Homo sapiens: one gene and its partners. Changing the gene in region 1 together with any one later gene gives a genetic interaction. Each region holds a gene or a part of one and is shown in the gene's direction. Other genes may lie near its edges.

Region 1 (4,420 bases):
CCCCTGTGTTCTAACCAAGGAAACCACAACCATAGCTAGTGATGCATCTTGAACCACACATCTTGAACTGTGTGTGGTGGCCAACTAGTCCTAGCACTTGGAAATCTGACTTCCAAACAAACCATTATCAGACTATACTTCTTTACCTCTAGTGGAGTGGATGCTGAATGCCAGTCTTTCCTGGAAGATACAATCAAGAAAACCCTAATAAAATATCATTGTTAATTTCCTGAAGAATAATTTGGGAATATTTCTAAGTAGATAATTAACACTATACATTTCTTTTCCCAAAAATAATAGTGTATAAGAACAATTCCTTTAAATCTGTTTCTGATAGAAGCAATTGAATGGACCCCAGATCAGGAAGTGCGTGTATTATAAAGAAAAAAAAGGAAAATGGGGATAAGTTATACGTTAATCTCACATGACCATAGCGTGCAATTTATTAGAGGGAAAAGCAGTTTAAGTTCTTTAATTCTGATTCACACTGTATTTGCAAAATCTTTACTTATGTAAAAATGTTTTTAACTCCTCGGAAATTCTCACTGTCCATGAAGACCCCATGAATTGGGGAATAAGAAGAGGCTCGAGGGCTGAAGAGATATACTAATCTTCAACTTTAGGGTCCTACATTCACATTTCATATGAGGTGGTGCAGAAAGTATATGTTTTAAGGCCTGGCCTATGGCCAGAAGTTGTTGGATTTACTTTTCAGAGGAAAGTGTAGAGATGCCGTAACTAATTATTGCAGTCACCCCTGGATTATTCAGCTGATGCCTCTACAGTGGCTCACTTGTTCTTGTTTCTCCCCTGCTATCTCTATTTGGCCATTTCACTGTTAATTAGCACTTCCACCAGAGGGCAGACTGTATAAACCAGAGAAGGTGACAGCCTATTAATTGGGCTGCTGTTTTACTATTCTGTACTTACTGGGAAGGGTGATAAGTTGAAATCAAATGAGTAAAATGAAGGGTTTTGTTTGTTTATTTGTTTGTTTTTGGAGGCGGAGTCTTACTCCATTGCCCAGGCTGGAGTGCAATGGCATGATCTTGGCTCACTGCAACTTCCGTCTCCTGGGTTCAAGCGATTCTCCTGCCTCAGCCTCCTGAGTAGCTGGGATTATAGGCATGCACCTCCATGTCCAGCTAATTTTGTATTTTTAGTGGAAACGAGGTTTCACCATGTTAGCCAGGCTGGTCTCGAACTCCCAGCCTCAGGTGATCTGCCCGCCTCAGCCTCCCATAGTGCTGGGATTACAGGCTTGAGCCACTACCCCCGGCCTGAAGTTTTAAATTTATTTTTACATTTCAATAATACATCCTTATTGTTGTCAATCCTGAAAGTCCGTACTTTTTTTTTGTTTGTTTTGAGACAGAGTCTCTCTCTGTCACCCAGGCTGGAATGCAATGGCGCGATCTTGGTGCACTGCAGCCTCTGCCTCCTGGGTTCAAGCAATTCTCCTGCCTCAGCCTCCCAAGTAGCTGGGATTACAGGCACCTGCCACCACACCTGGCTAATTTTTTTTTGTATTTTTAGTAGAGATGGGGTTTCACTGTGTTGGCCAGGCTGGTCTTGAACTGCCGACCTCTGGTGATCCACCCGCCTTAGCCTCCCAAAGTGCTGGGATTACAGGTGTGAACCACCACACCCAGCCAAAAGTCCATACTTTTAAGGATTGACAACATTGATACTTTAGATCATAACAATATGATTTATAATTCATATTTTTAATTCCTTTAAGAAGTATTAGGCTTACTTTAATAAGTTTTTTTGTTTGTTTGTTTTTGAGATGGAGTCTCGCTCTGTCACCCAGGCTGGAGTGCAGTGGCGTGATCTCAGCTCATTGCAAACCCTACCTCCCAGGTTCAAGCGATTCTCCTGCCTCAGCCTCCTAGTAGCTGGGATTACAGGTGTGTGACACCAGGCCCGGCTAATTTTTTTGTATTTTTAGTAGAGACGGGGTTTCACCTTGTTGGCCAGGCTGGTCTCTAACTCCTGACCTCAAGTGATCTGCCTTCCTTGTTCTCCCAAAGTACTGGGATTACAGGCATGAGCCACCATGCCCAGCCTTTGCTACTTTGGAATAGAATTTTTATTTTACACATATGAAAGAATTTGACCTCAAGTGTTAGTTCTGTTGAAACATAATTAGGCTATTTACATAAAAGGCACAGTTTGAATACAAAAAAATGGCATAGCTGGAAGAATGTAAGTTTAGATTATCTCACTTTTACAGTTACACATTTTTAAGTTATTTGACCTCGGTATTAAAAATCCTCGTGTTCCATTTTATGTGTAGTCCAGAAATACTTTTTAAATAACTGGTACAGTGATGTCCTTATATAGAGAGTGTTGAAAGCAAAAGGCTCTGAAATCTATCATTACTTGTAGTCCAGTTTGCCCTCCTTTTTCAGCATGTCTACTCTCCATGTTCAAAATTTTCCATGGCTAATTTTTTGTCCTTAAATTCATTTTCCCCTGCCACCCTGTCAACCAGCCAATCAGTCAACAAATAACTTGGGTGGGTACTATACATAGGGTCACCAATTCATTCCTGAACTGTCCCGGTTTTAAAGCTGAACATTGACAACCTGGAAAACCCCCTCAGTCCCAGACAAACTGGGACTGTTGGTCACCCTGCTTGGATGTTACATGTAACACCTGACCATCTTTTGTACTGTACAACCTTACAATTTTGTAGTGTTTTCAGAGTGCTTTCATCTGCATGCTAAGGGAATACAAACTTAATTACTGATTGTCTTTGCAAAATATAATTAAGGTAAATATGCTACAAAAATATCTAATTATAACTAAAAACTGTTTTTGGCTTGTTTTGAGTAATGACTTTACATCACAGCTTAGATAATTGAAGAATGACTATATATATATTTTAAAATATGCTTCCATAGGGAAAAGAAAAATCGGTCATTTGGAAGATATCCCAAAACATTAAATCTTTTCTTCAGCAGGATGACTCTCAATTTTCTAAAGGCATTGTTCTACCATACTTCTGTCTCAGTGGTTTTCTTTGTCCTCAAACTCATACCATTTTACATCTCTCCTCTCCTGCCTTGGCAGGAGTTCATTATCAGACAATGTTTATCATGCTTAAGCACATTTAGGCAGCAGTGGAAAAAAGAAAGTCTGGTGGAAGTAGTTCAAGAAAGACAAAAGATCTTTGTAAAGACAGAGTATAGTATGAATTTAATATATTTCTAAATATTTAGTTCTTGTCACCGTCTCCAAGATAAACAGATGTTTATCAACAGTTCATTCTGCATGACACTGCTATAGTGATTTTTTTTTCATAGCATGGAAAAAAATGCAGTAGTTAGGAAAACAAAATAGAAAATTATGATAGAAATTAGTCTTTAAAATTACTGTAACATAGGAAGCTGAATGATAATATGGTAGTTACAATCCTTTCAGACTATGATTTTGGGGAGACGTGACTAAAGTTTGGAGAAGCAAGTGTATTTTTATACATGACAGTAATGAAAACTTTTTACTTTATTTTATCTCTCCTATATATTCTTTAAGTTTTATTTCAGGTTAACCTATGTCATCAAACATTCTGTAAAATGTGTTAGCCAAGTCCATGCAAGGTCTCTGTTGTAGAGCAAGATTATGTCCTAGAAATGTGACCACAGCATGTATATTGTTCCCTCTCATCTTCCTTCCTTCTGCTTTGTTTTAATGTTTCCATCTAACAGCAAAAAGGGGCAGGGAGTCTGCCAACAGCCTGCATGTTAGAACAGTTCTTTAAAGGAAGGAAATGGAGGAAATCTTAGACCAAAATCAGGATAATCATTTGAAACATATGATATTTTTACACTAGCTGTTAGATCCAGGATGCAACTGTTTTACTTTTAATCACTTGATTTATTTATAATTGCAATTTTCTGATCCCAAGATTTTATTCTTTATATATCTGGTTACTTATATTGATATTTGTTTATGTTGCACAGTGTGTGTGTTTGTGTTTATAATCACATGTGCTTTTTAAGATGGTGTTTAAAAGAAGTAACCCTTCCACAGCATGTCCTCCTCACATTCTTCCACCAGAGAAGAGGCCCCCTGAGCCCCCCGGACCTCCACCGCCGCCACCTCCACCCCCTCTGGTTGAAGGCGATCTTTCCAGCGCCCCCCAGGAGTTGAACCCAGCCGTGACAGCCGCCTTGCTGCAACTTTTATCCCAGCCTGAAGCAGAGCCTCCTGGCCACCTGCCACATGAGCACCAGGCCTTGAGACCAATGGAGTACTCCACCCGACCCCGTCCAAACAGGACTTATGGAAACACTGATGGGCCTGAAACAGGGTTCAGTGCCATTGACACTGATGAACGAAACTCTGGTCCAGCCTTGACAGAATCCTTGGTCCAGACCCTGGTGAAGAACAGGACCTTCTCAGGCTCTCTGAG
Region 2 (2,792 bases), 3.3 Mb from region 1:
AAGCGCTGGTTCTTTTTCCTCCACCCTTCTTTCCTCAGTTGTGGGGAACTCTTGGAGAGTTAGGGGAAGAGGAGCTGAAGTAGCCTGTGGGTGTCACCCTCTGGGGGTAGATAGGCAATGGGCGATATGATGGGAAATGTCAGAGATGGAGGCTGCAAGCCAGGGACAGGGAAGCAGGTGTTCCTAATATGAAATGGACTACTTATGCTTTGACTCCTACCCAGCAGGAAAAAATGTTTAAAGACTCATGATCCTTGGGCTGGTGAGCTGAATCCCTACCAGGGCATGTCCTCAGCAAAGCCAGACCTCGTGATCCTCTTTCTTCTCCCCTGCTAGGATTTGGTGGCCTGGGTGACAGCTGGTTTTCTGCATATCCCACATGCAGAGGACATTCCTAACACAGTGACTGTGGGGAACGGCGTGGGCTTCTTCCTCCGACCCTATAACTTCTTTGACGAAGACCCCTCCTTCTACTCTGCCGACTCCATCTACTTCCGAGGGGACCAGGATGCTGGGGCCTGCGAGGTCAACCCCCTAGCTTGCCTGCCCCAGGCTGCTGCCTGTGCCCCCGACCTCCCTGCCTTCTCCCACGGGGGCTTCTCTCACAACTAGGCGGTCCTGGGATGGGGCATGTGGCCAAGGGCTCCAGGGCCAGGGTGTGAGGGATGGGGAGCAGCTGGGCACTGGGCCGGCAGCCTGGTTCCCTCTTTCCTGTGCCAGGACTCTCTTTCTTCCACTACCCTCCCTCGCATCCGCCTCTGAGCCAGGAGCCTCCTGACCCTGTGATGCCTGACACAGGGGACACTGAACCTTGTTGATGCCAGCTGTACTGAGTTCTCATCCACAGAGGCCAGGCATGGCCCAGCCTGGAGCCGTGGCCGAGGGCTTCCCTAGATGGTTCCCTTTGTTGCTGTCTGGCTTTCCCGAATCTTTTTAGGCCACCTCCAAGGACTCTAAAAGGGGGCTATTCCCTGGAGACCCCAGAGTAGGGTTGCCAGTCCTGCAAGTCCATAGCTGAGCTGGAAAGGATGCTTCTGCTCACATTCCCTCTCATCCAGGTCCTTTCCTTCTCGTCTTCCTCTCTCTCACCTACTTCCTCCTCCTCCTCCTGTTCCTGCCTTCTCTTCTATCCTGCAATTTCTCCCGAATCCTGAGGGGATATCCCTATGTCCCAGCCCCTGGTACTCCCCCAGCCCTCAGTTTTCAGTCAAGTTCCGTCTCCTCTCCAGCCCTATGGAAGTCTCAAGGTCACGGGACCCCTAATCAGAGTGGCCAATCCCTGTGTGTCGTTCCCTTGTGTCTGTTGCTTATTGGGAGTAGGAGTTGCTCCTACCCCTGTCCTGGGGCTGGGTGTGTTTCAGGACAGCTGCTTCTGTGCATTTGTGTCTGCCTGCCTCATGCTCTCTATAGAGGAGGATGGTCATCGTGACAGCAGCAGCTCAAGTTAGCATTTCAAGTGATTTGGGGGTGCAATGATAATGAAGAATGGCCATTTTGTACCAGGGCTCTGTATTCTGCAACAGCCTGTTTGGGAGGCTGGAGTGGAAACAAAGGGTGGGCATCAAAGATGAGAAGCCAAAGCCCCTACAACTCCAGCCACCCAGCCAGGAGGGGCTGTCCAATCACATTCAGGCATGCGAATGAGCTGGGCCCTGGGTGAGGTGGGGGTCTGGCCTAGTGGGGAGGGGCCTGGCCTGGGTGGGGCAGGGCCTGGCCTGGTCCAGGCTTGGGCTCCATTCCCATCACTGCTGTCCCTCCTGAGGTCTGGATTGGGGATGGGGACAAAGAAATAGCAAGAGATGAGAAACAACAGAAACTTTTTTCTCTAAAGGACTGGTTAAATCAATTCTGATACAGCCTTACAATACAATAGTATGCAGCTAAAAAATAATTGTATGTCTTTATATACTAATATGTAATAATCTTCAGGTGAAAAAGGCAAGCCACAGAAATGTGTATAGCGCACTTCCCATTTGTGTTTCAGAAAGGAGTAGAATATAAACACATAATTGCTTATGTATGCCTATTCAGAATAAATGGGTAACACTGATTACTTTTGGGAGGGGAACCAGTAGGTTGAGGACAGGAGAGGGAAGGGTCTTAACACTTACACCCTTTTGTACATTTTGAATTTTGAACCATGTGACTGTATTACCTATTCAAAATAAACAATAAATGGGCCCAAACAGGAATTGACTTTTTTTTTTTACTGACACTTTTTTTTTTGGTGGGGAACAGGTTGGGGGTAGGGTAAAGTGGGTTAAGGAATGGGACCAGGGATGAAATTTTCTCCAGTTCTTGAGATCCAGAGAAGCAGGTGTGGCCTCTAGTAACTCCTTTTGCCTTCTCATGCTTGTACATCTTTGAGGAAATGTTAAACCTCGGTTAATTCCCTGACACACACACACCCCACCCTTTCCCTCTCTCCTGTCTTCTCTCTCTCTCAATGAGGGGCAATGAGAAGCAGTGAGGAGGGGTGACTTCTGCTTGCCAGAAGCCCAGGCCAGGGCAGGAGGTAAAGTGCAGGAAACATTCTGGATGCCACTCAGCTTCTGACCAGAAAAAGACCAGAATATGTTCTGGGAGCTCCAGCATCATGGAAGCTTCTGCTACCTTCTGTTCTGCCCCAAGCCCAAGTTCTGCCGTAGGTCAGTGGAACAATGGATGGGGAGGAATCAATGAGCTGGAGAGAAATTAGGCTCTAAAGAACAGGAAGAAAGCCTTCAGTAAGGAGCAGGGGGCCTTCAATGGCATAGTAATTCATAATATGGCCAGGAGTGGAGGCAGGAGTG
Region 3 (4,079 bases), on another chromosome or scaffold:
TCAACATCATTACTCATTAGGAAATGCAAATCAAAACCATAACAGGTGCAGTGGTTCCCACTTACAGTCCCAGCTACATGGGAGGCCAAGGCAGGAGGATTGCTTGAGCCCAGTAGCTCGAGGCTGTAGTGCAATATGATTGTGCCTATGAACAGCCACTGGACACCAGCTTAGGCAACATAGCAAGATCCCATCTCTTAATTTAAAAAGAAACACAAAACCATAAGAAGATATCACATTCTACCCACCAGGATGGCTGTAATCAAAAAGACCGCACAGACAAGAATATGCAGAAATTGGAACCCTCATAGAGTAATAGTGGGAAAGTAAAGTTACAGCCACAGTGGAAAAAAAGAATTTGGCAGTTCCTCAAAAAGTTAAATGTAGTCTTATCATATGACCCGGCAATTCCATTCCATACCTAAGAGAAGAGAAAACTGTGCCCACACAAAAGCTTACACACTAACGCTCATATCAGCATGATTCATAATAGCCATAAAACGGAAACAACTTAAATGTCTTATCAACTGATGAATGAATAATGTGAGATAATAATGGAATATTATTTGACCATAAAAAGGAAAGACTTACTGATATATGCTACAGTGTGTGTGAACCTTGAAAACATTATTTTAAGTAAAAGAAGCCAGACGTAAAAGACTGCATATGGTCTGGTTCCCTTTATGTGAAACATTCAGAAAAGGCAAATCTATAGAGACGAGTTAGATTGGTGGCTACCAAGGACAGGGGAAGGGGAGAATGGAGAGTGGCTGCTACTGGGCCCACAGTTTCTTTAGGTTGATGCAGATATTTTTGAATTAGATAGCAGAAGTATTAATAGCTGCACAAGTTTGTGAATGTACTAAATTGTACGCTTTGAGAGAATGAATTTTATGTTAATATATCTCATTTTAAAAAAGAAAACACTGCCTCTGTGTATGTGCAGTGACTCACTCCCCTACCCTCAGTGGCAAGGTCATGGGACCCTTCCTCAGACACTGCATTTGAAAGAGGCAGCTGTAGTTTTGGAAACAAGTAACATTCCTACCCTGCTTCCTGTCCACCATGAGGCAAGAGGAAGTGTTTCATTGCCTATATCTACAGTTGTAATTAGCCTCCCCAGAGAACAGAAAATCGTATATCTTATGCATAGAGGGTGTGAACTTTCCCACCAACATGTAAAGCATTAACAAACCTAGACCATGTATAGCTATAAACAGCCCTTTCCATGTGTTGATTTGGATTATTAGTTTTGGGATTTTTTTTTGTGTGTGTGTTACTGTTGTTTTTGTATGATGAGGCCTTCCTTTGATTAAGTTGGATTATTTCATTCCAGTTAAGCATGAAATAGCATAACCTGGATCCACATTTTCCAAAAAATAGAAAGTCCTCATGTGAACGTGGATATTTTCTTCTGTTTGGTAGGAGATTCATCTCCATTTGGTCCATTAGGTTCAAGTAAACTTTTAGGCTATGGAGGATTAGGACAGTGGCCCTATGCTCCATTCTGGGAGTATTGGCAGTAAGGGCAGGGTCCATTCATAAAATGGATCCTCTTCAAGGAAAGCAAACTTTTTAAGGGAAGGGGTTGTAGAAAAATGTATAGATATGTGTGTGTCAGGAGAAGGGAAATAGTTCGGAGTTCACGAAGCACACCAGTTTTATAGCATGGCAGGGCAGAGTTCTGATGAGTAAAAATTGGATTAGGTTGAACTGCAGAGATGCTTATACATACGTGAATCATTTAACTAATGTACTTGTGCTTCTTTTCCTTCCCAGTAATGTGCTTTGGTAGAAATATGCTTTTTCCAGATGTGCCCTGCCACTGTTGACTGATTTAATTACATAGAGCAGCTTTCCATTTCCTTTGACACAGGCAAGCAAATAGAATAAGATTAGCACACTAGAGAGGGGTGAATAGTTTAGTGTTTGAATTTACCTTCTGTAATATGTTTGGGAGAGGGCTTAATAGAATTGCTGCTACAGTCTACTTCCCTTTTGTTTCCCATGTATTTTTTCATCGGCTTGCATCACGTGGATTTATAGATTAAAGTGAAAAACCCGGGATATCTGTGTTATTCTCTCCATCATTCTGAAATTGCTGGAGAAAAAATTGGCTTTTAATTTATACACTCTCGTGTTCAAAATGATTATCATCTCACAAATCATACAGTGTGCATTAGACTGCTTCTCAAACTTCAGTGTGCATCAGATTGACTGGGATCTTGTTAGAATGCAGATTCTGCAGATCTAGGGTGGGGCCAGCTTTTCTGCATTTTTAACAAGCTCCAGATGATAATGATGCTTCTGGCCCAGGACCATATCTTGAGTAGGAAGGAATTAGGATACTATATTTGGACAGTAAACATTCTTCCTGCAGTGAGACTGAGGCTGGTAGTCAAGGCCATGGCTGGGAAATAACTATTCTTAAATTGGGATGCATCATCCAAGTAGAACAGCATCACATGTTATACCATCTAGAGCTACTGGGTTAAGTTTGCAAATACTTCGTATAGATCACAGTTATCTTTATCCCAGTAAAGTTCTACTCCAGTTTTTCACTTCCAAATCATTTAAGTAGTTTTAAAGTACCATTTAACAAGTATTTACTCTAGATTGTGGAGCACGCTTGAAATATGAGTGTACGCTTCTGCACGCCCCTGTGTTTCCAGCTCTCTATTGGAGGCATCATCATTCTGAAGGATACCAGTGAAGACATTGAGGAGCTGGTGGAACCTGTGGCAGCACATGGCCCAAAAATCGAGGAGGAGGAACAAGAGCCAGAACCCCCAGAACCATTTGAGTATATTGATGATTAAGGGCCAGAGGTGCGTGTGCAACAAAATTATGAAGGGAAACTTCTTTGTCAATACTTCACAAATGTTTTTTGCAAGGACATCATCTCACGTTTTTCCTTCCTTTTGTGTTTAATCCTTATTTACCTAAACAGTATTAAAACTTCCCCGTTTCAACCTTTTTCTGCATATATAACCACAAATTCCTTTTTCTTTCCTCTTTGACTCGTACTCTACTCACGTTATTCAAAGTGGCTGGTCTGCAAACTATTTTTATAGGTCCATAAGGAGATAGGAAGCTTACTCCAGAATCTGTCTGCTCAACGCTTCTTTCATCAAGAAAGTCTTCCCCAAAACATCAGCTGAACTGCAGTTTGCTTAGTGATAGAGCTGATTTACATTCTGATGTAAGCTTCTTGTTGTGGATCAGTTATAGTTGTGGACTGGCACTGGCCCATAGGTGACACTTTTGAGTAGCACAAATATAGGCTTCTCACTGATTTTTCTCTCTCCCCATCTCCTTCGACAGTATTTTTGGCATAGAAGCCTTAACATTCATTCATTCTATGATGGTGCTATTGAATATCTACTGTGTATAAGACATAGTGCTTATAGGGACTTTGAGGTCAGTTAGACTAACCACAAGGCTGTGTCCATTGACAAAGATCATTTACTATATCAGTGTCTTAACAGTGTTGAAAGGGGTCTTTAGATGGGAAAGTTTGGAGTAATCTAATTTCATGAAATTGTCGTTCTTCATTTCCCCATTTTCTTTTGAGTGTTCATCACATATTTGAAGACATTGTGAGACATAATCAAGGTTTCCTAATTCCACCCAAGCACAAACACGTTTTCAGACAATTTTTTTTTTTTTTTTTTTTTTTGAGACGGAGTTTCGCTCTTGTTGCTCTTGGCTGGAGTGCAATGGCGCAAACTTGGCTCACCGCAACCTCCGCCTCCTGGGTTCAAGCGATTCTCCTGCCTCAGCCTTTCGAGTAGCTGGGATTACAGGCATGCGCCACCACACCCGGCTGATTTTGTATTTTTAGTAGTGACAGGGTTTCTCCATGTTGGTCAGGCCGGTCTCAAGTTCTGGACCTCAGCTGATCCGCGAACCTCGGCCTCCCAAAGTGCTGGGATTACAGGTGTGAGCCACCACGCCCGGCCAATTCATTCTACTCTTTAAAAAAAATAAGGACAGTATCATTTGTTATATTTAAAGGTCTGGTTGCAAATCTAGCATGCTGTGTGTTAGATACTGACTAGCAATTTAGGAAAGATTTG
Region 4 (4,079 bases), on another chromosome or scaffold:
GATTTGAGGAGTTGTATGCAAGGAAATGGGGATGAAGCCCAAATCTGTATCTCACAGTATCACAACTGTAGCAGGTGCTTGGTGGGGACACACTTGGGAGATAGTCAGTGCACAGGGAATTCTCAGGATATGACATGATCAATGGCCAGTCAAGGTTTCTGAAATGATATTAATAGATTTTCTATCAGGAATGTGACGGAGACCCCAACCTAGAGTTGTTTAAACAAGTAAGAGTTCTCTTTATTTCTCATATAGCAAGTTCAGCAGCTCAAAGCTATCACAGAATTGGGTCAGCTCAAAGATATCACAGAAATGCGGTTTTTTTGACTGGCCTGTTTTGGTTATAAGATTCCAGCAGCATCTGCTGTCCTAGTGGAACTGCACTTTTTAGTGCAGTTTAGCAGAGGCCAGCTTAGGACACAGAGGTTCTTTCCCTCCTCCCTTTTATGAAGGAGGAAAATCTCTCCTGAATCTCCTCAGCAGACTTGCTTGTATATCTCTTTGCCAAGAACTAGGTCATATGCAGAGTTAGTTGAAGTTAAGTTTGGCTGTAAGTAGTAGAAAAACTCTAAATAACAGGGGCTTAAATGAGCTTGAAGTTTCTATCTGACTGATGACCAAAATGTCTGGTGGCAATCCAGGCTGCTGTGGCACTTCATGGTGTCAGGGTCCCAGGCTCTTACCATTATGCGCTGGTTGTATCCTCCATTCTACCCTCCGTGTCCCCCAGGTTACCTCAGGTCCCCAAGTTGGCTGCCGAAGCCCCAACCATTATAGCTCCATTCCAGACAGGAAGGAGGGAAGATAAGTGTGACCCCCATCCCTATAAGTTGCACAAAACATTTCCACTTGGATTTTATTGGCCAGATGTTAGTTTTATAGTCACATTCAGATGCAAAGGCAATTCAGAAATGTCTTTTCCAGGGGTCATGTGTACAGCTGAAAACCAAGGATTATGAACAGCAGTATAGCCCCATGCAGGAGCTCCTAACTTGGGGATCATCTGCAATTCCCAGGCAGGTCCATGAATTTGGATGGCAAAAATAACATCTTTATTTTCATTAACCTTTAACTTACATTTAACTTCCCTTCTGTTATAGATTATAATATCACTATAGTATATCATAGGTAGCGTTAGCAAAACCTGTGACTTACCAGTGGAAATCAGGAGTTGTGTTCACATGTCATTTCTGCTATTATACATATCTTCTAGTGTTGTTTATGTTCACCTCTTTCAAAATTGCGTTCATTATTAGACCTGCTAAGGGGATTCATGGCACCACCCCACCCCTCTACAAGAGAAAAACCAAAAAAAGCCGGGTGCAGTGGCTCATGCCTATAATCCTAGCATTTTGGGAGGTCGAGGTGGGAGGATTGCTTGAGCTCAGGAGTTTGAGGGCAGCTTGGGCAACATAGTGAGGCCTCATCCCTACAAAAAGTTAAAAAACTAGCTGGGCTTGGTGACACCTGCCTGTAGACCCGTCTACTTGGGTAGCTGAGGCGGGAGAATCACTTGAGCCCGGGAGGTCAAGGCTACAGTGAGCTACGATTGTGCCACTGCACTCCAGCCTGGGTAACAGAGTGAGACCCTGCCTCAAAACAACAACAAGCACAACAAAAAAGAAAAAACAGAGCAAATATGAATCCATAGTACTGGTTAAGAACCTGGTGGCTGGGATTCAAATCCTGGCTTTACTACCAGTAAGCTGTATGCAGTTAAGCTCCCTGTGCCTTTGTGTTCTCTGCCTCAAGACGGGGGATTCTGTATTTCCCTCATGGGATTGTGAGGGTCAAATGAATTAAAACATTAAAGCCTGGGGCATAGTAGAGACTAAGGAAATATTTACTGTTATTATTCTGTCATGGTGAAAAAAGGGAAAAGAAACATCAGTGGACCAGCTGCCACGATGTCCTTCTTAATAATCTGAACAAAATCAGGATGCTGTCAGTGAGGCGTGGTTGCCACGGCTGCCATTATTAATCTTCCCCTGGTGCTAGGGTGTCCCTGTAGAATGTCATTTTGTACTCAAGACAACCCTCTGAGGGTAGGTATTCTCATCATCCCCACTTCACAGATGAGAAAATTGAGGCTCAGAAAGGTACAAGGATTGCCCAAGATTCCACAGCTAATATGTAAGCAGTTTAGCCTTGAACCTGGACAGTGCAGCTCTGTAGTACCACCCTAGGCCATCTTTCTCAAGCATTGATGATGCTGTCTGCCTGAAGAAACACTTTTAATGAAACCAAAAGCAGAATCCCAAAGAACAGCAGTGGAAGGAAGGGAGCTCTCTGGATGGGAAAGCAGCCTGATTGTCATGGGCCCACCTCTTGGGCATCCCCAGCTTCAAGTTGGGGTTCCCACGACCCCCTCTTTGGGTTTGATTAATTTGCTGGAGCGGCTCACAGAACTCCAGGAAACACTTAGGTTTACCGGTTTATTATAAAGGATATTCCAAAGGATACAGATGAAGAGGTGCATAGGGTGAGCTATGGAGGAAGGGGCGGGGAGCTTTCGTGCCATCCCTGGGGATGCCACCCTCCAAGAATGTGCATGTTCTGCTATCAGGAAGCTCTCTGAATCCTTTCCTCTTTGGTTTTTATGGAAGCTTCATGATACAAACATTTTTGCCTAAATGACAGTATGATATTGAAATTGAGTCAGGCTGCCTGGCTTCATTGCTTTCCAGTAAGTGACAGCCTCACCTCTGTGCATCAGTGTCCTCACTCGCCTCTGTGCATCAGTGAAGTGGGGACGCTGCTAACAATACATACCTCAGAGCAGTTATGAGGATTCAGTGTGTTAATCATCCATGTCAATCACTTGGATTGCTGCCAAGCACGTAGCAAACAATAAATGTTTGTTGCTATTGTTCTGGCATTTATGATTATGATTATTAATTGTAATTATTCCCTGTACCATCTCATTGTCCTCAGGGCTGTTGCTCACCTAGTATGGCCCTAGCCCATGTGTATATTTCCCCATAGCTCAGGCTGAGAGAAGAACACACAGATCAACTTGGAGAAAACAAAGAGGAAAGAAATAGGCAACTAGGTCAATACTCCCCACAGTATTTTATGTTATTTTATTTTATTTATTTATTTATTTGAGACAGAGTCTCACTCTGTCACCCAGGCTGGAGTGCAGTGGCACCATCTCGGCTCACTGCAAGCTCCACCTCCCAGGTTCACGCCATTCTCCTGCCTCAGCCTCCCGAGTAGCTGGGACTATAGGCGCCCGCCACCACGCCCGGCTAATTTCTTTTTGTATTTATGGTAGAGACGGGGTTTCACCGTGTTAGCCAGGATGGTCTCGATCTCCTAACCTCATGATCCGCCTGCCTCGGCCTCCCAAGGTGCTGGGATTACAGGCATGAGCCACTGCGCCTGGCCTCCCCACAGTATTTTATTATGAAAGTTTTCAGACATGCATAACTTTGGAAGACTAACACAAGGGTCAGCAGACTACAGTCCATGGGTCCAATTCAGCCCACTGTCTGCTTTTGCAAGTAAAGTTATTGGAACACAGCTATGCCTGTTTGCTTCTCTAGTTCTGGTTCTATGGTTGTTTTCAGTGCCACGCAAGCAGAGTTCAGTAGTTAGGTTTGCAAAGCTGAAAATAATTACTGTCTGGCAATGTATAGAATAAGTTTTGCTGACTTCTAGCATAGTGCAGTGAGCACCTCTATACTTACACCCCAGGTCAGTGATTGTTAGTGTTTGCTATATTAGTTTTTTATCTTTCTATAGGTCTGTCTCTATATACGTTTTATTTTTTAGCTGAAAATCAGTTGCAGGTTTTGTAGTACTTTATCCTGAGGTCCGTTTAATGCCAGAATGGTGAGTTTTTGGACTACCTGTATGAAAGATTTACTGTGTGCATTTTTCTGAGGAGAGACCATCACAACACTTCATCAGATGCTCATCGTCTGTGATCGCAGAGATATTCTTCAACTCCTGGACCGGAGAACCCAACTCACGCAAGATCTTAGTCACTTGTAGACCTCGTCTCAGTTATGTAGGGCCTCAGAACAGAACAGGCTAAGGGAGCTCCTGCTCCTCAACCTCGCCCTGTCCCTACC

What was found. A genetic interaction does not mean that the proteins touch.
Region 2: changes in CDK12 (region 1) and AOC3 together harm fitness more than expected from each alone (negative genetic interaction), as found in Homo sapiens cells (one large-scale study listed by BioGRID).
Region 3: changes in CDK12 (region 1) and PSMD1 together harm fitness more than expected from each alone (negative genetic interaction), as found in Homo sapiens cells (one large-scale study listed by BioGRID).
Region 4: changes in CDK12 (region 1) and PPP2R1A together harm fitness more than expected from each alone (negative genetic interaction), as found in Homo sapiens cells (one large-scale study listed by BioGRID).

The regions. Positions count from the first base shown.
Region 1 is NC_000017.11:39,526,566-39,530,985, forward strand, and holds part of CDK12 (cyclin-dependent kinase 12), read left to right. Parts: intron 1-4,038; coding exon 4,039-4,420. UniProt on the Homo sapiens protein: Cyclin-dependent kinase that phosphorylates the C-terminal domain (CTD) of the large subunit of RNA polymerase II (POLR2A), thereby acting as a key regulator of transcription elongation.
Region 2 is NC_000017.11:42,855,939-42,858,730, forward strand, and holds the end of AOC3 (amine oxidase [copper-containing] 3), read left to right. Parts: intron 1-336; coding exon 337-612; 3' UTR 613-2,186; downstream 2,187-2,792. UniProt on the Homo sapiens protein: Catalyzes the oxidative deamination of primary amines to the corresponding aldehydes with the concomitant production of hydrogen peroxide and ammonia. Has a preference for the primary monoamines methylamine and benzylamine.
Region 3 is NC_000002.12:231,167,894-231,171,972, forward strand, and holds part of PSMD1 (26S proteasome non-ATPase regulatory subunit 1), read left to right. Parts: intron 1-2,672; coding exon 2,673-2,819; 3' UTR 2,820-2,828; intron 2,829-4,079. UniProt on the Homo sapiens protein: Component of the 26S proteasome, a multiprotein complex involved in the ATP-dependent degradation of ubiquitinated proteins.
Region 4 is NC_000019.10:52,196,079-52,200,157, forward strand, and holds part of PPP2R1A (serine/threonine-protein phosphatase 2A 65 kDa regulatory subunit A alpha isoform), read left to right. Parts: intron 1-4,079. UniProt on the Homo sapiens protein: The PR65 subunit of protein phosphatase 2A serves as a scaffolding molecule to coordinate the assembly of the catalytic subunit and a variable regulatory B subunit.